Regions from separate parts of the Homo sapiens genome. Here region 2 is linked to region 1. Evidence: fine-mapped expression QTL. A gene starts in region 1. The other region holds a variant in brackets. All regions are shown on one strand. Distances are from middle to middle.

Region 1 (11,299 bases):
TCACAGTATGGCTATGACTTATTACAGCAAGGTCAGCAAAGGGGAGAGGTCACAGGGCCATGTCCAGAGGAAACCTGGTACCAGCTTCCAAGCATCCCCTCCTAGTGTAGTCACATAGGATATGCTGAATTCCTCCAGCAACATGTTGTGACAACATATGCAAAATGTTGCCACAGAAGCTCCTTAGAAACTCAGTGCCTGGGCTTTTAATTAGGGGCTGGTCATGTAGACACTGTCTATTGTGCACAAATCAAAATTCCAGATTCCCAGAAAAAAACCAGGTGTTCCGCAGAAACCATATTGTTTATGTACAATGGAGCCATTTGATCAGTGAGGGTTGGGGGAACCCTTCTGAAATCCAGGTTCCCAAACCTTCCCAAAATTCACATTCCCAGATACCAGCCAAGGATAGGATAGCCATCTCAGGCCACTTCAATGGCAACTCTACTTCAATTGAGTTTTTTTTTTGTTTGTTTTTTTCAGATGGAATCTCACTCTGTCACCAGGCTGGAGCACAGTGGCGTGATTTTGGCTCACTGCAACCTCCAACTCCGGGGTTCACGCAATTCTCCTGCCTCAACTCCTGAGTAGCTGGGATTACAAGCGCGTGCCACCACAACCGGCTAATTTTTGTATTTTTTTTTTGTGGAGACGGAGTTTCATCGTGTTGGCAAGTATGGTCTTGATCTCCTGACCTTGTGATCTGCCAGCCTCGGCCTTCCAAAGTGCTGAGATTACAGGCGTGAGCCACCGCACCCGGCCACTTCAATTGATTATTAATTTGCAAGTTTGTAATGCTTTCAATGGTTCAACCCGTTTGATGTTAGTTCTGAGTTCAGACTTGTGAGTGACAGACACACAAAGGCAGCTACGAGACTATCAAATTCACTCAGCTTAATTTTTGTGGTGGTTGCTATTATCTATTTTTATTTGTGTATATTTGAATGCCAAATACCAAAATTCAAGCATAAACTTTGTGATGGATTGTTTGAAAAGTGGAGATTTATTAAATGAGGAACGATTCCTTTTGAAACTTTTTGTGCAGTATGCAAAAATGGAGAAAGACACCAGCACATAATAACAGCTAAACATGGAAGATATATGATTTCCTCAACTAATATATAAAATTGTAAACAGTTTTTTTTTATTAAAAAGAATTCAAGGCCAGGTGTGGTGGCTCACACGTGTAATCCTTGCACTTTGGGAGGCCTAGGTGGGTGGATTGCCTGAGCTCAGTAGTTCGAGAACAGCCTGGGCAAACCTTGGTGAAACCTTGTCTCTACTAAAAATACAAAAAAATAGCTGGGTGTGGTGGCAAGCACCTGTAATTCCAGCTACTCGGGAGGCTGAGGCAAGAGAATTGCTTGAACCTGGGAGGTGGAGGTTGCAGTGAGCTGAGATTGTGCCACTGTACTCCAGCCTGGGTGACAGAGTGAGACTGTCTCAAAAAAAAAAAAAAAAGAGAATTCAGATTGAGATATAGTAATGGCAATGGAAGTTGTAAACATCTGCCACACTATATAACAGCAGCAGTCTTTCAGCTCAAATGACAGTTTGAAAGTATTACTGAAAGTATTACTGCTAGAAGTATTTTCTGATTCCAAAGATGCAATCAAATTTTGAAGAGCCAAGAGGAAATCTACTACAACAACAAAAGTAATAGCTTCACTATGATCACAGAGATGATCAATGATCTAAATGCCTCACCTATTTTCAGCAGAGCCATGGATACAAGTAATCACAAGGCAGAAGATATTTTCCCTTTGCTTCTGAACTGCTTTTGGTGGCAATGATACAAATACAAATTGTGGTTGATGTTTGCATAAGGGCACAGACATGCTTGGTCCAAGCTGAAGTAAAGATTCCAAGTTGTGGACCGTCCTGCCCACATTCTGCATCATGATGTCAAAATAGCATCTGATGTTCTTTGCATTTTCATTGAAGTAATTATCACAAAATTGTTCTCTTACTTCAGCATTTACACTATTAGAATTGAGTGATTAAAGGATTGTGTGATTTTTTTTTTGGCATTCGATATTCTTCATTTCCTTTGCAGTTAGAAACTCATTGGCTCCTGTAACTAACACAGTTGATAAAGTTGTTAGTTTACGTAAAGTCTTGAAATAATAATTTTAATTTTCAAGAAAAGACTCCAAAATTTTTGTTTACTTTAAAAATACTCCATTGAGTGAAGTTTACTTGTTTTTTATTCATAGTTTTTTTTTTTCACTAGGAAACAAATATTTTATTCCTTTTTTCTGTTGCTCAGAGGACAGATCGTGATACAGAAAACAGCAGTCTAGCCACAGAGGCTGGGTTTGGTTGATTTCCACAGGCACATGGAGGACAGGAATGGTGGGATCCGGTTTGAGCTCCCAGTCTCATTATGACTTTTGACCTCTTCCTGTACCCTCTGCAGCAGTGCAGCATGGAGCCTACTGGGTCTCTAACCTACTTAACTCACCTCTGTGACCACTGAGGATGCGGGAGTTGTCTCTGCTGACCAAGGGGACATGGGCAGAGAAGCAAAGGCCCCTTACTCTCCCTCTGTCCATTCCAGTGTGCTGGCCGCAACAGAATGGGAATCCTTCAGTCATCACCTGCTGGAGACTCAGCTTCAGGGATGGGAGCCTGTGTCCAGAAAAACTGGGCTATAGATTGAAGTCTCAGAAGCAGGAAGGTTGGAGATGGGTGGGGCACCAGAGCCCCTGTGGTTATTGCTGATAAGATATGCAGGGGCTACATTCCCCAAGTGTAGATTATTAGTCCTGGGCCCAGGCTGGGCACGGTGGCTGACACCTGTAATCCCAGAATTTTGGGAGGCCTAGGCAGGTGGATTGCTTGAGGCCAGGGAAAACCCCATCTCTACTAAAAATACAAAAATTAGCTGGGCATGGTGGTGCGTGCCTATAGTCCCAGCTACTCGGGAGGCCCAGGCATGAGAATCCCTTGAACCCATGTTGCCATGAGCTGAGATCGTGCCACTGCATTCCGGCTTGGGTGACACAGTGGGACTCTGTCTGAATAAAGAAAAAGAAAAAAAGCAGCAGCCCTGGGCCTGGAATCCCTGGGTGCTATGTGAAAGGCAGGGCAGATGGGGCTCCCTGGGGCTTCCCCAGGGAGAAAAATAACCATGGAAGGGTATAGTAGCCTCCTGAAGGTAATGCCGGGCTCACAAACTCCTTGCTTTGCTTTGTATCTCCAATTGCTGATCTTCAGAACAGACGGGTTGGAGTGGGATAAGGAAGTGAGGTTCTTGTAAAAGAAGTGAAGAGACTCCATGAAGAAAGATGAGGAAAGTGGTGCAAACCTTCCCAGGTCCCAAGACAGCTGGAGACTCCTGCCCATGCTCTAAAGGGAAGGAGCTAGACTCTCCAGGGAAAAAAGCAGACTCCCAGGAGTGAGAGGTGATGGGGGGCAGAGAGGAGCAGACGGCCACATGGCTCAGCCCCTGCCCAGGAAAGTGAGTCCACAGTTCACTAACTATAATCACCATGAACAAGTAGCCATGAACACTATAGTCAGCAAACACACACACAGACACATAACACGAGTTGGAGGAGCCTGCAGGCTGCAGTGGTGAGGCAAGAGATTAGTTGGATCATCAGGTGGAGGAATGGTGTTAGAGGGGACAGGGAAGGGCATGGCAGGACAAAAAAGTTCTTGGCTTCTCTTCTGGAAAGATTTGTTGCTGAAGTGGCTGTTTTCTTAAGCATCAATATTTGCATCTAAAAGTTCAAGCAGCTGCCTTCAGGTTCCGGAGGCTTCCCACTGGAGGGCTGCACTTCATTCAGCTCTCTGCTTTCTGGAGTTTTGCTGCATTTGCAGTGATGAGGTTCTCCACCTGGGCTTCCTCCTCCCCTGGGGTCCCGGGCTTCTGATTGAAACTCCACTTGCATCTGCAACCTAGGATAAGGAAGATCCCAACGGAGAAGAGGACCACAGCACATACCAACCCCTGAATCCTCAGGGTCTGTTAGTCATAATGAAAATGGTCAATTTCCTTCTCCTACTCAGCTGCACTGGCCATGACAATGAGGGCCAACAGGCTGCATAGGAATATCAGCACCACCTCCATGGTGCCTGCACAGCCAGTCCCCTTCCTGAGATGATCCCAGGAGGATGTGTCGAGTCCCAAGGAGCCTAAGAGTGGCATGTCCCTAGTTTTCAATCTCTTTAGGGATAGGATTATGCAAATTGAAAGAAGAGCAAACAATGTTACTGAAATAATCCATGGCATAATGGAACCTGAATGCATTAAAGAAATAATGGAGGGCAGGAGAGGTGGCTCACATCTGTAATCTCAGCACTTTGGCAGGCTGAGGCGGATGGATCAATTGAGGTCAGGAGTTTGAGACCAGCCTGGTCAATATGGTGAAACCTAGTCTCTACTAAAAACAGGAAAAATTAGCTGGGCGTGGTGGCATGTGCCTGTAATCCCAGCTACTGGGGAGGCTGAGGCAGGAGAATCACTTGAATCTGGGAGGCGGAGGTTGCAGTGACCCGAGGTCTTGGCACTGCACTGCAGCCCAGGTGACAGAATGAGATCCAGTCTAAAAAAAAAAAAAAAAAGAAATAATGGAATATTCACAAGTGTCAAGACTGTTTCTTAAAATGCAAAAGCATTAGGCTGGGTGCAGTGGCTCATGCCTGTAATCCCAGCACTTTGGGAGGCCGAAGCGGGCGGATCACGAGGTCAGGAGTTCGAGACCAGCCTGGCCAACACAGTGAAACCCGATCTCTACTAAAATTACAAAAATTAGCCGGGTGTGGTGGCACAAGCCTGTAGTCCCAGCTACTTGGGACGCTGAGGCAGGAGAGTCGCTTGAACCCAGGAGGCGGAGGTTGCGGTGAGCCGAGATCATGTCACTGCACTCCAGCCTGGGTTACAGAGCCAGACTCCATCTCAAAAAAAAAAAAAAAAAAAAAAAACATTATGAGCAGGAAAATAAATTGTGTCTCGAAGTGATAATCATTGTTGTACTTACCATGACTGTCTTCTGAAATGCATCTCAACCCTTGAATAATTTGATTCTTTTACATGGATGGTACTAAATGCTTTTCCAGCATGGGAACAAGTGGGATTATCATCAGTGGTGGTAAAGAAGGGAATAGAAATGGAGAAAAATGCTTCTTTTTTGGTCAGTGGACATTTATTTTTTATTTTTATTTTAACTTAAACTTCAATAGCTTTTGGAGTACAAGTGGTTTTTGGTTATGGATGAATTATAAAGTGGTGGATTCTGAGATTTTAGTGCACCTGTCACCTGAGTAGTGTACACTGTACCTAATGTATAGTTTTTTTTTTTTCATTTTTGAGATGGAGTTTTGCTCTTGTTGCCCAAGCTGAAGTGCAATGGCGCGATTTCAGCTCACTACAACCTCCACCTCTCGAGTTCAAGGGATTCCCCTGCCTCAGCCTCCCAAATAGCTGGGACTGCAGGTGTGTGCCACCACGCCCAGCTAATTTTGTAGTTTTAGTGGAGACGGGGTTTCACCGTGTTACCTAGGCTGGTCTTGAACTCCTGACTTCGTGATCCACCCGCCTCCGCCTCCCAAAGTGCTGAGACTACAGGCGTGAGCCACCGCGCCTGGCCATGTGTAGTTTTTTTAACCTCCGGCCTCCTTCCTACCAGCCCCTTCTGAGTCTCTAAAGTCCATTATATCACTCTGTATGCCTCTGCGTACTCATAGCTTAGCTCCCACTTATAAGTGAGAACCTACGGTTTTTGGTTTTCCACTCCTGTATTACCTCTGCCTGTGAACTTTAAAAAGTTATCGTGATCAAGAGATCCTGCATACTCCTGAAGAATGGAAAATGCATGTTTGCCATGCAAGATGGTATTACGTGGTTTAACAAATAAAATTTGAAGAGCAATTCCGAGTTATCTTTACGACAGCTTACAGGCTGGTAATGCTCATGTCCAGCGTGTTTTCTCACGGTTAGCGTCCAATGGACCAGAAAGGAGCAAGTGAAGCTCTCCACACTGGCGCAAGTGTAGGTGGTGCTGCGGCAGCGTCGCGGGGCCACAGGAACCGACCTCGTCTGGAGAAATTCCACTCGTGAATTCTGCCAAATGAGGAAGTGTTGAGGACGGCCAAATCATCAGGGGGATGTAATTCATGAGAAAGCTGTGTAATTTAAATACTCATAATTTATTTCAGCTAACGAATAAAACTGCAGTACTGCACTTGCCGCATCTGGGAACTAACTGCCCAATGCGGCTGAAACCTCATGCCCTTTCAAAAGGAGTGGCGCGAGGGCTTGTGGGAAATGTAGTCTGCACTTTCTAAGGGAGCGGCGCGAGGGCTTGTGGGAAATGAAGCGTGCACTTTCTAAGGGAGCGGCGCGAGGACTTGTGGGAGATGTAGTGTGCACTTTTCGGCCCCCGTCGCGGGAGCCGCTTCGGGCCTTCTGGGCATGTCTGCCATATGGCTCCAGGTTTGTTTTTCTCCCCGGCACTCTGACGGGGAGGGCTCCCGGCATCTCCTGGCGTCCGGGTAGAGGACGCGGAGGGTGAGTAAGGGAGGGCAGGGGCGAGGGTGGACTGGGGGTTCCGCGCGGCCTGGGGGTGGGAGAGAGGGAACGCCTTTGCCGCCTGGCCTGGGTCCGAATCCTGCCTCGGTTCTTGTGCTCCCAAAGGGAATGCGCAAGTCCCGCGCCTGTGACAAGTGAGGTTGGATTTTCTCTTCCCTGAGGTGAAGGATGCCCGGAGGCCTCCGCAGGACGGCGCAGAAACGGGCCTTCTGCCCAATAGATGCGCGCTTCTCTCATTCTTTCCCCTCAGAATCTCGCTGTCCTCACAACCACCTGTGGTCGGCGTCGCCGCGGTGTCACTGCGATGCCGAGGCGAATGGGGTGGGGGGAAGCGCCCGCGGGGCGGGGAGGGACCCTGCAGGCGCGGACTCCACACCCAGCCTCTGGCCAGCGTCACTCGGCTTGCTGTGTCCTCGCAGGTCGCAGCTTCATTGCCTGATGTCTTCGGGAAGTATTTTGAAGTCATCGTGGCTGTGGATTGGGGAATTTCTTGTTTCCACTGACCTGTGAGGCCGCGCACGCGGAGGGAGGCACCCCAGGCCCTCCGGCACTGTCCAGCCTCGCCTGTGTCCCCATTAGCACCAGTGGGCATTTTCAGAGGGTCCAGCTCATGGCTCAAGTGACAGGAAGATGTAGGAGCTTTCTGTCTTGAATGAGGATTCGAACCAAAGGGCTTAGGCCCAGCTGTCTTGGAGCAAAGCAGCTGTTGTGGGGTAAGAAGGGAAGGGTGGGGGGCGAGGGCCCAGGGGCCCTCCTAGGAGGACACCCAACCCGTTGGGCTGACACCTCACTAGAGATCTAGAGCACGGGTGGGAGGAGCAGAGGCTCGATTTGTGTCCTTTCCAGACCCCCACAGGCTGGGAGCTTTGTGCCCATTCAGATGTGGGGGCAGAAGAGGGCAAGGCCGAAGGAGCAGACAGCACCGCTTCTTGGGGAGTTGTGAAGGCATCATGCGGAGGGAAGAGCTTAGCAGCCAAGTGGAGGACAGCACCCTCCATGCCTGGATTCGTTACTCGCTCGTTCTAGATGCTGAGCTGCTGGCGCACTGCAGCACAACTAGAGATGTACGGATGCCCCCATCTTGATCTTACAGAATCAGAGGTACAGCCGCGAGAAAGGTCTGTAAGTTATCTATTTACGCTTTATTTAAAAGATGGGATGGGGTGGGGTGGACAGGAAACGAGCTTAACGTGTTAAGTTACTGATGACATTGACACATTTTGTTGTGGCAGAGTCAAGAACAGACAGAGTCGCTTGAGGACTCAGGAGGGTGTTTGCTGCGTTGACAACAGAGTAAGTAAAAATCAGTTTGCTTTTTTAAATCCAAAGATTGTTTTGAGAACCTCAAATCAAGTTAGAGCAAGTTCGTTTTCCTTCCAAAAAAACTGGGCTGGGCTGGGCACGGTGGTTCACGCCAGTAATCCCAGCACTTTGGGAGGCTGAGGGGGGTGGATCAAGAGGTCAGGAGTTCGAGACCAGCCTGGCCAACATGGTGAAACCCCGTCTCTACTAAAAATGCAAAAAATTAGCCGGGTGTGGTGGTGCGCACCTGTAGTCCCAGCGACTTGGGAGGCTGAGGCAGGAGGTTGCGGTGAGTCGAGATCATGCCATCGCACTCCAGCCTGGGCAACAAACAGGGCAGGACTCTGTCTCAAAAAAGCAAACAAACAAACAAAAAAAACTGGGCTGAAAAATACCACATCGCTTTTTTCAAAACCTTGTTGGGATTCTCTGGTTTGTAATAAAGATTAAAACCTGAGTATTTTTGTTTAGCATCAGTTTTAATGAAAGTATTATGTTCCACTCTTTGGCTTTTCCTAACTTGCTTAATTAGTTTAATATATCGGTTTGCATACTCTGTTAGAGTACAGCATAAATTGTTTTTAAGTCAGTAGAAAACAAACGTTTTTACATTTGAAAACTAATGAGTCCAAGCAGTACATAATCATGCCAGAGTCATGCATGGGCGTGTGAGTATCTCCCTTTCAGAGATGTTTTGCCGGCTGCGAAGTGGACCTTTTAAGGCAAGTGACATCACTCATGATCTTTTCTTATTTCTCAGCTACACCCTCACAGTTTGCTCTGCTCTTCCAACACCAGTGGAAGATGATCACATCCCAGGTAAGTTGTTTATTTTTTCACCGTTTTGCTTAAAAGTAATTATTGAGGTTTAAAAAATGTCTATACATTCATATGAAAGTAGAAATAACATCAGGGAAAATATAGAGGAGAGGTCACATTACATTTCATGGGTCAAATGCAGCCTGCCGCATGTTTTTTTATGGTCCACAAACGAAGGATGGTTTTTATATTTTTAGGTGGCTGAGGGAAAAAAAACAAGAATTATATGAAATTCAGATTTCATTATATATAAAGTTTTATTGGGACTCAGCTATACTCATGTATTTATGTGTTGTCTGTTGGTACTTTCATACTATGAGGGCAGAGTTGACTGGTTGCAGCAGAGACTGTAATGGCCCACAAGCCTAAAATATTTACTGTGAGACCCTTTACAGAAAATGTTTGCTGATTTCTGATAAAGAGTTGATGAAGAGTAAAACAAAAATGTCATGTAAGTGAATGCAGATCTTGTGATCTCACAGAGTTGTGAAACTGGAACATAAAACAGTTTGTCAATGGGCTTTATTAGGTGACACTGTGAAACTTCTGATGACAATCTTGCAGTTACATGAAAAAGTAGTACAACGAAGTGAATAATTCATGTGCAGTCCAGGGGAAAACTTAAGCGATATCAAGAGAAAGTATGTGATTAAAAAATTCAAATAGGCCGGGCTAGGTGGCTCATGCCTATAATCCCAACACTTTGGGAGGGCGAGGTGGGTGGATCATGAGGTCAGGAGTCCGAGACCAGCCTGACCAACATGGTGAAACCCCGTCTCTACTAAAAATACAAAAATTAGCTTGGCATGTTGGCGTGCACCTGTAATCCCAGCTAGTCAGGAGGCTGAGGCAGGAGAATCGCTTGAACCCAGGAGGCGGAGGGTGCAGTGAGCCGAGATTGAGATTGCACCACTGCACTCCAGCCTGGGTGACAGAGTGAGACTCTGTCTCAAAAAAAAAAAAAAAAAAAAAAAAAAAAAAATCACATGAATTGTGTAGCATTAGGACTTATGGTTGTTTAAAGAAACAGTCCTGGTAGGCTAGGGTGATCATGGGTTGTTAGGATGTGGCAGGCTTTGTGACAGCCCTAGAGACTGGGCAGAACTGGAATATTTGCAATAACTTTCAAGAGATTCTACCTAAAAAAAAAATTATGGTAAAATACACATCACATGAAATTCACAATTAAGCCATTTTAAAGTATAGAATTCAATGACTTTAGTACGTTCACAATGTTGTACCACCATAACCACCATTTATTTCTGGAATATTTTCATCACACCAAAAGGAAACATAGTACCCTTAATAAGCAGTGTTGTAACTTAATAAGCAGTTGCTCCCTTTTTCCCCTCTGCTCCAGCCCCTAGCAACCAATAATCTCCTGTCTTTATAGATATGCCTGTTTTAGATATGGCATACAAATGGAATCATACAATTTGTAGCCTTTTGTGTCTGATCTCTCACTTAGAATAATGTTTTCAAGACCCATTTATGTTGTAGTTGTATATCAGTACTTTGTCCCTTTTTATGACTGAACAATATTCTATTATATGGATATACCAACTTTTGTTTATCCATTCATCTGTTGATGGACATTGGGGGTCATCCTGTGTTTCGCTATCGTGAATAGTGCTCCTATGAGCATTCATGTACAAATATTTGTTAGAATACATGCTCTCAGTTGTTCTGGGTATATACCTACGAGTGAAATTGCTGGGTCATATGGTAAGTTTACGTTTAATTTATTGTGAAACTGACAGTTTTCCACAGCAGGGTGCTTTGCAATCCATAGGAATTTTTAGTTAGCTTTTCTATTTCTGCAAAAAAGTATGTTGAGTTTTTGATAAGTATTGCATTGGGTAAGTATTGGAGTGGGTAATAACACTTTGGGGAGTGTTATCATCTTAATATTAAATCTTATAATCCATGAATGTAAGATTTTTTTCCCCTAGGTCTTCTTTCCTTCATTAATGTTTTGTAGTTTTCAGTGTACAAGTGTTGCATATCCTTGCTTAAATTTATTAGTTTTTCATTTAAATGCTATTGTAAATTATATGAAATTCAGACTTCAGTGTCTATAAAGTTTTATTGAGACTCAGCCATACTCATGTATTTATGTATAGTCTGTGGGTACTTTCACACTACGAGGGCAGAATTGACTGGTTGCAGTAGAGACTGTAATGGCCCATAAGCCTAAAATTTTTTTGTTTAAATGCTATTATAAGTGGAATTGTTAATTTGCTTTTTGACTGTGCACAACTAATTTTTGAGTGTTGATCTTGTATCCTGTAATTTTGCTGAATTTGTTTCCTACTTGTAGTAGTTCCTTTGTGGATACTTCAGTATTTTTTGCATATAAGATCATGTCATCTGCAAACGAAAATATTTTTATTTCTTTCCAATTTGGGTGTGTGTATTTATTTAGCCTAATTGCTGTGGCTGGAATTTTTAGTACAATGTTGAATATATGTGGCCAAAGCAGGAATCTTTATTTATTGTTAGTTTTTTGTTTTAGCAATCTTAACCATTTTGGGATGTACAATTCAGAAGCAGTGTTATGTATGTGTATTCATATCGTACATATAATCTCCAGAACTTTTTCATCTTGGAAAATTGAAATTCTGTACCTATTAAACAGTA
Region 2 (11,299 bases), 560 kb before region 1:
CCACTTTGACCCAAATAACTTTGATAAATCCATGGATCCCTTTAAACCAACTGTGACCTTAACAAGCAGTGACTTTTGTTCTCCCACTGGAAATCATGTTAAAGAAATATTAGAATCACCCAAGAAGGCAAAGTCACATTGAATAATGAGTGACAGTGGGTGCTGGGTGTCACGCTCTGTGTCTTCTCTGTGAGTTTGTCAGATGGCTACTTTTGGCTTTGGTGAACTGAATTTACCTTTGAGGTCCACCAAGGTTGATACAAAGCTTATAACATTATCCTATAGTCTTCCCTATTTGGCCTAACTTGTGTAGAATCAGAAATACCATGTGCCATGTTGGTGTGCTGCACCCTAAAACTTAGAGTATTAAAAAAAAAAAAAAGAAAAGAAATACCAGACGTTTCCTTTTCAGATTGTTGTCTTGTTTCTGAATCCTCAGCTTAATGAGGTAAGCTCCTTTCCCTGGGCCTGGAGACGTCTTTATGTTTAAAAAAAATAAAGAGTGGCATAAGATAGGTAGGTAGAGATTCGACGGTTTTCAGAAATCCTGGCGAGGCTGTCAGGAGTCACATTATAGACAGAATTCAAATGTCAGTGCTGGCCACTGTCTTCAGATTCTTTATGGAAAAAACAGAAATTCCAGTCCTATAAATTACCTATGTAGTATCAATAACGTGTAGAAAATGGCTCAAAAGGGTCTTGTAGAAAGTCTTTTTACATAAACAGAAAACTGTGATCTTTTGTTGGAAACAAATCTACCACTAAAATTTGGTGAGCATTCTTGTTTCCATATGTAGTTTCTAACTCATCAGCAAGGAGGTAAATTTCCAATTAGAATCAAGAATATTTTAAATGATCAGATAAAACTGAGTAAATTAGTTGGTTTAATCAGTCCCCCCATCTCTCATCTCTCCTGGGAAATCATCTGACTTTTGCAAGGTCCTTGGAGTTTTCAGCGTAATCACTTAAGGTCACATTCTATATCAAGTTTCAGTTTAACTTTGCTACAGGATTAGTTTATCACAAAACTTTAGTTGAGTACATTATAATACAGTCATACATCGCTTAGCCACAGGGTAGTTCTGAGAAATGCATCCTTAGGTGATTTTTTTGTGTGAACATCATAAAGTCAACTTACACAAACTTAGGTGATGTAGACTATTACACACCTAGGCTAAATGGTACAACCTATTGCTCCTGGGCTACAAACCTGTACATCACATTATTGTACTGAATACTATAGGTGTTAGGTGTGATGCCTCACACTTATAATACCAACATTTTGGGAGGCTAAGGTGGGAGGATCCCTTGAGGCCAGGAGTTTGAGACCAGCCTGGTCAACATAGTGAGATGCCCCCCGCTGCCAAAACACACCTCCTGTCTCTTAAGTTTTTTAAAAAAAATAGCTGGGAGTGGTGGTGCATGCCTGTAGTCCCAGCTACTCAGGAGGCTGAGGCAGGAGGATTGCTTGAGCCTAAGAGGTTGAGTCTGCAGTGACCCATGATTTTGCCATTGTACTGCAGCCTGGCTGGCAGAACAAAACCCTGTCTAAAAACAAACAAAACAAAACAAACAAACAAACAAAAAAACAAGAAAACAAACTACTGTGGGCAATTGTAACACAGTCGTAAGCATTTGTGTATCTAAACATATCTAAGCATAGAAAAGGTACAGTAAAAATATGGTATAAAAGATAAAAAATAATACACCTGTAGAGGGCGCTTACCATGAATGGAACTTGCAGGACTGGAAGTTGCTCTGAGTGAGTCAATGAGTGAGTGGTGAGTGAATGTGAAGGCCTAGGACATTCCTGTACACTACTGTAGCTTGTATAAACACTGTATCCTTCAGGTACACTAAATTTATTTTTAAAAACTCTTCCTTCTATAGTAAATTAAATTTACTCTTTTACTTTATCAACTTTTGAACTTTTAAAGAAGCTTTGACTCTTTTGTAATAGTAATTAGCTTAAAAAACAAACACATGGAACAGCTATACACAATATTTTATTTCTTTATATCCCTAGTTCATAAGTTTTCTTTGTTTAAAATTACTTATTTGTTTACTTTTTAAACTTTTTTGTTAAAAACTAAGGCACAGACACACAAATTGCCTAGGCTTACACAGGGTCAGGATTGTCAGGACATCACTAGGCAATAGTTTTTCTGCTCCATTATAACCCTACGGGACCACCACATGACCGAAAGTTTATTACGTGGCACATGACTGTACTTCCTTTTGCGGCCCTGTGACATTTTGCTAAAACGTTTCAGTAAAATGTAGATATAAAGAAGGACCAAGGAGTTGCAGCATGAAGTATGGAAAAGGAGTGCAAGAAGCACTGTGTTTGTAGTTGTCACTATAGATCAGTTGGGGAAATGCTTCTCAGTGTTGCTATGACTTAAAGAAAAACTCCAGATGCCATGGTGAGTTACAGCAGAAAGGAAGACACCCAGAAGTTTAAAGAGCAGAAGGATGGACTAAAGTACCAAGAAAATAGAGCGATGTAGGAGTCAGTTCTTCAGCAGCCCCAGAACGTCTAAGGGGAGTGAAATGTCATTAGTAACTCTGGATCTGTTCTTTGATTATATATCAGCAGTTAAATGGTTGTTGAAAAATATTATTGACTTGGTGCCCTCTTTTGTGGCTTTTAAGGTTATTTAGTTCTCTCTAGACAGTAGTTGGGGTATGTACTGGGCACATCACTGCCTAGTTACTTCCTCCTCTAAATGTGAGATGTTTCAGCCTACTGAAGTCGATAAGGAGTCGTTTGTGAGCCTTTCAGTTGCATGCAAGCAGTGCATTCATGTCAAATAAGATGAAATCTGGGCCAAAGAGAGGGTAATTCATTCTACACTTTATAATCAGTAGCAAGAAATACCATCTTTCGAGTCCTACCACCCTCACCTGGTAGGTAGCCTTTTTCCCCTATTCTGTTTTTGTCAAATGAACTTCTTGATCTAATACACTTAATAGGTTTTTTTAAAGGTCCTTATGCAACCAAAAATCTTGTTTTCTTGTTCTTTATACAAGAAAGCAGTGCTAGACCTCTTGGAAGTTTACTTTTCATCTACAAATTTGAATTTGCGGCATTTCTGAGTGTTTCTACCAGTCTCTCTTATGGTTGAGGTCTGTTAATCATTCACTCACTAGTGATAACATTCATGAATATGACATTTTAAATTAGTATCTCACCTCATAGAAAGAATTGTGCAGCTTTTACATCTGCAAGACTGGAGTTGAATATTCCAGTCTTTACATGATTTTTTTCTCCCTCTGTGTCTTTCCTGTCTCTTAATTTTGTTGGTGCATCGGGATTATTAAACAAGTGAAATTTCTCTGTTTTCTGTTGTAAGTACTCCTGCTGTTTCTGTTTGTCCCTGGGACCATTGGCAGTTTTCTCTCCCATCCTCCCTGAGCCATCTCTCCATAGCATGGTTTGCTTCTGAGTTTGATCTTTTGATGATTTTTTGTATTTCACTGGCCACTTCATGAGTTAGCTAAGCTTTGTAGGTGTCCGCACCTCAGGGAGTGGGGCTTGGCCTTTACACCTTAGGTGTGAGAACTTGCACTCCCTAGCCTGGCAAGTGTCACGTGGTGCTTTGACAATACCAAGAGCTGGCTTGGCCTCAAGCAGTGGTTTGAGGGACTGTTCTGCTATTTAATATTGGAAATCATTGACTTTTGGTAAGATAAAGCTACTGGCTTGGAACAGTTAATTTTACTGAGTCAGCTCAACTTGAGTTTGGTGGCAGAGGGTGGCACTCAGTAGGAAAACTAGGGAAAGAAGATCATGAAGTAATGATTATGCACATTCTGGTAACTTATGTGGTTGTCTTTTTATTTTTTCTTGCAAAAGAAAGAAGTTGCAAATTTTTTTTCTTTTTTTGGTCACGGTGTTTTTACTGAAAATTCTAAGTTTATTAAAACAGAACAGAATCTCAATTAGTCCTGTAATCACAAATTTTGTGCTAGTCTACAAATAACAGGTGGTTCAAGCTTTCCCCAGCTTCAGGCTTGGTGTAATATGTGGCATTCATCTTCCATCTTACTACTTAATAGGAATGGTAACCGTTTACTCACATATTTTTATTTTTACACTTTTTATTGACCACAGTTCTTGTCTGTGAACACACAAGTCTAACTGGAACTGTTTTATGAGACTTCTGTGGCTTTTGGTGAAATAAAGAATTTTTAAAGAAACCAGTCCAGCGTGATGATTTTTCTAATGAATGTCAAAGCCAAGCAAGGGAGGCTCAGAGGAACTGAATGTCTCCAGCTGCTAAGGCTCTACTGTCTGAAAAGCTTTTGGTGGTGTGTAATTAAAAACCATAGACATCAGAGTGCTAGTGTTTGAAAACTCACAGAAGCAAGCAAGGGGGTCTTTTCAGAGAATGAGCCCCGCTCTAGGTCTTTGCTTACCTCTTCTCTCCAGAGAAAACTCAGAGGCATAAAAGGTGTCCCTGCCTCTCTCACAGGTAGATGTATGGTGTGTGTGGTGCTGTACGCTTTGGCTTCTATCTGCACACACTGCTCTCTGTCCCATTTCATACCTTGACAGTTGTCAGTGTGGTTCCAAATTAGCTTTTTTATGTTTCTTCTCTTGCCAGGAGTGGCTTTAAGGTGAAGAAGCATGAAACTCAGTCTCTTGCCTGGGTGCATGTTCTCAGGTGAGTCTGTGCTCATCCCCAGAATGTCTCTTAGACCAGGGGTCCCCCAGCGGGAGTGGATCATAAGGACT[T/G]TCCAATGAGTGCCTGAGAAACCAATTTCCAGATCCTCACTGTCCCTGAAGAAAAGGCGCCTGAAGAAAAGGGAACCCTTTCACAATGACTCTCTCTCTCTCTTTGTCTCCATTTTTTTTTTTTTGTAAAACTCTCACTAAAAGCTACAAAGATGCATCACCACAGGGTGTGAAAGTCTCCAGGGCACCAAAGGGAAGATCTGAAATATTGGTATAGGTTCTAAGAAGATAATTGACTCTAATAACTGAAAGATATTTTTCTTAAGTCAGATGGTTTCCCAATTCATTGGTTTCGACAAAATAAGAAGACCTGAGTTGTTAGCTGATAGATCTAAAAATAATCTTTGATGATAGAATTTTTGGGCACATGACTTGGAAAGGGGTTCAAAGAATTGAAAGTCCTTCTGTTACAGAACTACCTTCTGTTTCATCTATCGTTTATATAAATAAGGTTTCTTAATAATTATAATTATAAAAATAGAAATCATGAATAAAATTGACATTGACCTCTGTTACATTCTAGCAATAAACAGTATGCATCCATGACCATATGAACTAATTGCAAAACACACATAAACCAAAACCCAAGCCCATCTGATTGCAACGAGATCCTTTTGTTCTTTTTAAAACTTTATGTCAGTATGCTTATGATTTTAGAAATACATTCATATTGGCTAATAGAATTCAATTTTAACATAACTTATTCTGTACAATTTGGACCAGAAATTTGGTATATGGTGTAAGATGTAAAAAAAGGGGTGCAGTGGGGGGAAATTTGCAATCTGAGTTATTTTTCATCTGTTACAAATGTGTAAAAGATTCTCCCTCAAATTTTGCTAATGTAGGCAACAAGAACTATGAGAAATTTATCTTTTGTTTTCTTTAAAGAAAAACCCAAACCCACATATTTTTGTACTGTAAAAGTTTTTAAGAATTAGTGCAATAAAACATTTTGTAGATGATATAAAAATTTACTTTTGTGTCTAATACTTATCAAAACTTGCAATATTTTGAAAATAAGTTGTGCATTAGTAAATGTAACAATAACTCATCAGCAGAAAAAAAAATTTAACACCTCAAGACTTATAGTCAAAGAAAAAAATGTAACAGAGGCATTGGATAGAGACCTTTAAAAGACTTTCAGTCATGCAGATGTTTTTCATTGGGATAATTTCTTGATGGAAGTGGAATGAATAACGTAATGGAAAATGAATAACGTAAATTTCTGACTTATTCAGGAACTTGTTTGTGTAAATTTAAAATGGATCATATGGTATCATATCACAAAGGTAACTAGATAGCATTAAGCAAATTCAATATTTAGAATAAGGCAGATATTACATTCTTTGCAATTATTTAAACTTATGCTGAAAAGTGTTTAGATGTCATTTGAAAATGAAATGGGGTACATAGATTTAAAAAAATTAGGAGGTATCTGATCAAAAAAAATTGAAAACCACTGTCTTAGACCACTTAAACTGCTTGCTGATAAACTTAGCCTAGAGAAGCTCATTTTTTAAAACCTCAGACTCAAATTACAGAACCTAGGTTCTATAAAACAGCATGTCACAATTGAAAGTTCCAGCTTCCTCCTTGCTTTGTACCCAGATCTGTGGCTAACTCCCTCAGATATCTTTATGGAGTTGTATCCACTTGGTTCCATTCATGAGATGTCACTTTTCCCCATTGCTTGCCCTCCTAAAGGGTAACATCTTCTTTGTTGTGTTTCTCAGGATGAAGGGGCAGTGATCTACCAGATTTCAGACATTTCTAATAGGGATGTCCACGCTACCAATGAGGAGAAACTGACATCCACGTCATGTGGTCAGAAATCAGGTGCGGGCAAGGTGAAAGGTGACCAGAGGGAGACCTGGAGTACTTTGAATGTTCCAGTGCTCCCATGTCTACCATAAATCATGCGTTTTCATCCTCAGAAGCAGGTATGGAAGCATATCTTCATCTTTCTAATGTATATATGCATAGAAATGCCTGAAAGCCTAATGAAGCAGGAGGCACCTTACAGAGCTTAAAGAATTGGGTCACTGGAAGGATAGATTTAGGATTATTGACCTATGCTTTTGCTTCTTTATCGAGAAAGTGGACACTAACAAAAGTGCTTATTGAAGTACTAGGAACATAGGGATACTTGTGGCAAGTTGTATAGGAGACGCTGATGTGTGTGAGACTGCTTGAATTTCTTTATAATTTTCTGTCAATATGGCCATATCTTGTAGTGGTGTGTTAGTTCATTTGCGTTGCTGTAAAGGAATACCTGAGACTGGATGATTTATAAGAAAAAGAGGTTTATTTGGTTCATTTTTCTTCAGGCTGTAGAAGAAGCATGGCACCAGTGTCTGCTTCTGGTGAGGGACTCAGGAAGCTTCCAATAATGGCAGAAGGCAAAGGGGAGCAAGTGGTCACATGGCGAGAGGGAAGGAGGAAGAGAGAGGGGTAGGAAGATGCCAAGCTGTTTTTAAGAGACATATCTTGCAGAAACTAAGAGACCAAGAAGTCACTCATTACCACAAGGAAGGCACCAAGCTATTCATGCGGGATACGCCCCTATGACCCAAACACCTCCCATTAGGCCTCACTCACCTCCACCATTGGGATTAAGTGTCAACATGAGATTCAGAGGGGATAAATATTCAAACTATATCAGATGGCCTATAAATATGTCATACATTATGCAGCCATAAAAAAAATGGGTTCATGTCCTTTGCAGGGACATGGATGAAGCTGGAAGCCATCATTCTCAGCAAAGTAACAGAGGAACAGAGGACCAAACACCACATGTTCTTACTCTTAAGTTAGAGTTGAACAATGAGAACACATAGACACAGGAAGGGGAGAATCACACACCAGGGTCTGTCAGGGGGGTGGGGGAAAATGGGAGGGGGAGCATAAACACAAATACCTAATGCGTGCTGGGCTTAAAAACTAGATGACAAGCTGATAGGTGCAGTAAACCACCATGGCAGATATATACCTATGTAACAAACCTGCACATTCTGCACAAGTATCCCAGAACTTAAAGTAAAACAAAAAATAAATAAAATAAATATGTCATATGTCTGACTTTTTATGATTTTTATGTTCATTGTTTAACTTACAGAAATAATAACTAATACATATGGTGCCTTATCATGTGCAGGCATTGTTCTAAGTGCCTTGCATATACTTATTCATAGCAAGGTGTTACTCTTTTCTCCTTTTTTCAGAGAAACAAAGAAGGCAAAAAGTTAAGTAACTTGACTAAAGTCTCTTGGCAAGTGTAGGAAAGAAAAGTGGTATCTTTCCTCACTCATCACAAGGTTCATGGCTGAGACATCTCTAACAGAAGACAGATCAACAAGACAAAAGCATACAAATATATTTAATATAAGTTTTACATGACATTAGAGCCTCCAGAAATGAAGACCCAAACAGGGAAAACTGTACTTTTATGGAGAGTTGTGCAGAAGTACAATTGGAGGACAGAAGGGTGTGATCTAATGGTAATAAACTAGGGGAACTTAGTCAATCCTGTTTATTTCAATTCCTCTTAGTGTCTGTGTCTTTCAGGATAAGGACTTTGTTTTTCTCTGGGTGTAGGGAGGACCCCTCTGTTATTAGGTCTTATGACCTATTTTCATGGGAAGGTCTGAGGGATTCCTTTATGGCCTGCTTCAGGGGAGAGGGCAGGAGAGGTGCCAAGAGACCTTCCTGCTTCTGCTGTGTCCTCAGGTGCGAAGGCACCAGATTTTGGTGAAGTGTGTTCTGAACCTTGTCAGTAGTAAATGGTAGAACTACATTTGACTCTAAGCAGTCTGGTTCCATGATCGTTTAGCCACAATGTCAAAGTGTGAAGAGATTATCTTAATGACCCTAGGCTACTGTAAATTTTCCTGGTACAGTGTGTTAGGTTGAAACTGACCAGTGCACTGTAAAATCTTTCTTAAAGTGCTAATGAGGAAGTTGGACTAAGCAGGGCTGAAGCCTCTTACTGATGGACTTTTCAGATCATTCTAGAGCTAAGCCCCTCTCCTGGGTACCAAGTTAGATGGATGGCTTTAAACTTTACTTATGAAAAGTTTAGAAACATGTTCCTGACTACATTAAACATTATTAAAAACTTAGATCTTCTTAAACAACATAATTTTATTTGTGGCATTTTATGCACAGAATTTTAAAAGTCATGATCTGCCATTAAGCCAGGGAAGCAGATGGAAAGTCAGGACTTGGAGCAATTTATTCCCCCTGGTCTCCTTCCCATCTCAGATCCCAGTCTCTCTTCTATAAAATATTGGGCCAAGCATTGTTCCTGATTTTGTCCAACACTGCCTTCTGCCCTGACATCTTTCCCAAAGACCGTGTTCACCATTCTGCCGGTTTCTCTGGGTTAATCCTGAGTATTCTTGCACCTGCCTTCATTTCGTCCATCTGAAGTGTTTTCCTTTGCTGCCTCCTACACAGATCTGCACATCCCTTCAGGTCTCTCCTGCATGCTTTATGCTCCCATGACATTTCCTATTCCCCTTCCTGTTCCACAGCACCTAGTGCAGTGTGTCAATTACAGGAAAGTAATATTATAAACTTACTGAGGTTAGAGACTAGGAGACGGTCATTTTCGAGTCACCTTTGACACAGTACATGGTAAACATTTATTGAATTATATTCTTCCTCACCCGAGGAAATTCCTTCAACGAAAATTTATACAGACAGCTGGGACACTTGTTTACATCTCTTCCCCCTACTGTTTGCTAACTTTGAAGATAGTACTGTATGCTATCTTCATACTGAAAGAAACCTGAGCCCAACCTGTCCCTCCACGTTCAGGAACTTATAAAGCATGGCGGACACGTCTTCTTCCATCCTTTGGCACGTCTCCTTCTCTATGCCTAAGACAGAAAGTCATTTTTATAGTTATCCCAATAAGTTGGTTCCTTATTGGGAACCAGATTTAAAAAGGGGGAAGAGATTTAAAGAACCGGCTACACTGTAACTGATCAGCCACATCACAGGCAAGTGGAGGCTGCTGTACTGGTGTGGGGGTGGCTACAGGCCCTGTTAGGTGAATCCAGACCATGTCCTGGGGAGTGTCCACTTGGAGTTGGGTCCTGATGGCTACTTACCTAGATGTTTTCTGGGAAATGAGACCCTCACACAGCCATGGGGAGGAAGCCGCCATGTTGGTAAAATGCCCAGTTTCTTTCTCTGAGTACATGGCAAGTGGGAAACAAGGTCATACCATGGAATCTGGGCTTGAGCCTTTGGTAGGGAGTGGGGAGGTTGAAGGTTTTTGAACAAGGGAGTGAGGGTCACATTTGTGTTTTAAATAATTAACTGACAACAATAGTAGTTAGTGATTGCCATGTGGAGGATTGTAGCTTTAAAGTTTTGTATGCTTTTCTGTATTTTTATGTTTACTTCAATGAGTGCATCTTCTGGTTATTTTAAATGTCACCCTCCACCCTAGTAGAGTAGAGGATAGACCTGAGATGAGGAAGCCCATTTGAAGGGTATGGAGGAAGAATGAGTTTAGATTTGCTGGCTTAAATTTTAAAGCTTATTATCTTATCTGCTGCATTAATTAGATCAAGGCCACTCTTCTGGGCTGGAATTTAAGTTCATTCAGACTTGATGATAAAAAAAAAAATCAGTGTTACAGTGTGTTCACTTTCTGCCGTAATGCCATGGTTAGTCCAGTGCATTAGCCAAAATTGTAATGGACACAAGGGTGCAGGCTTGCTGTTCTTTCTGCCTGAAGGTTGATGACCTGTTTGTGGCTGACTAACCTGTGCTCTTCTTCTGAATGTCATGGACTTGTAATGCTGAACTGCACAGCGCTCAGCAGAATGCCAGCGCTCCTTTTAAATAAAATTTTGGAATGCTGTTTATGTGTTCACTGTCATTCTTGGCCTGCACTGGGGTTTCCAAGAGCCTTTCACTAGGGGGAAAAGCAACCAACTTATTGGGATAACTATAAAAATGACTTTCTGTCTTAGGCATAGAGAAGGAGACGTGCCAAAAGGTGGAAGAAGACGTGTCCACCATGCTTGTAAGTTCCTGAATGTGGAGGGCCAGGTGGGGCTCGGGTTTCTTTCAGTATTTGTTTTGAAGCCCATGTGAATTTGTTAAACTCTGGTCAGTGTTAGGTGATGAGGATAAAATACAAATAAGACACAGTTTCTTCACTTGAGGAACATGTAGTCTCTGCAGTGTTCTGTACAGTAGCCCTAGCTGCAGGTAGCTGTTGAGCACTTGAACCATAGCTAGTCAGAATTGAGATATCCGGTATGTGTAATGTGCAACCATTTTTTGAAGACTCAGTACAAAAAGAAGCATAAAATGTCTCAATATTTTATATTAACTACATGTTGACATAATATTTTGGATATATTGGGTTAACTAAGGTATATTATTATTATTATTATTATTAGAGACAGTCTCACTCTGTCACCCAGGCTAGAGTGCCGTGGTGCAATCTCAGCTAACTGCAACCTCCACCTCCTGGGCTCAAGTGATCCTCCCACTGCAGCATCCCAACTAGCTGGGACAACATGAGCATGGCACTAT

Evidence for each region. PIP is the estimated chance that this variant, and not a neighbour inherited with it, causes the effect.
Region 2: its variant is the best candidate, but not a certain one, in a credible set for the expression of ZNF37A in lymphoblastoid cells (TwinsUK, PIP 0.67).

What each region holds. Positions count from the first base shown.
Region 1 is chr10:38,087,974-38,099,272 of GRCh38, forward strand. ZNF37A (zinc finger protein 37A) reads left to right here and starts at 6,364. Exons shown (of 8, transcript NM_001324250.3): 1 at 6,364-6,517; 2 at 6,958-7,251; 3 at 7,565-7,656; 4 at 7,771-7,831; 5 at 8,601-8,659. The coding sequence starts at 8,645. It also overlaps the pseudogene FXYD6P2. RefSeq lists an enhancer at 6,318-6,507.
Region 2 is chr10:37,523,871-37,535,169 of GRCh38, forward strand. It overlaps the pseudogene TACC1P1. Among named protein-coding and RNA genes, the nearest start is that of LINC00993, 220 kb to the left of the region's middle. The variant T/G (reference allele first, on the strand shown) is at 4,742.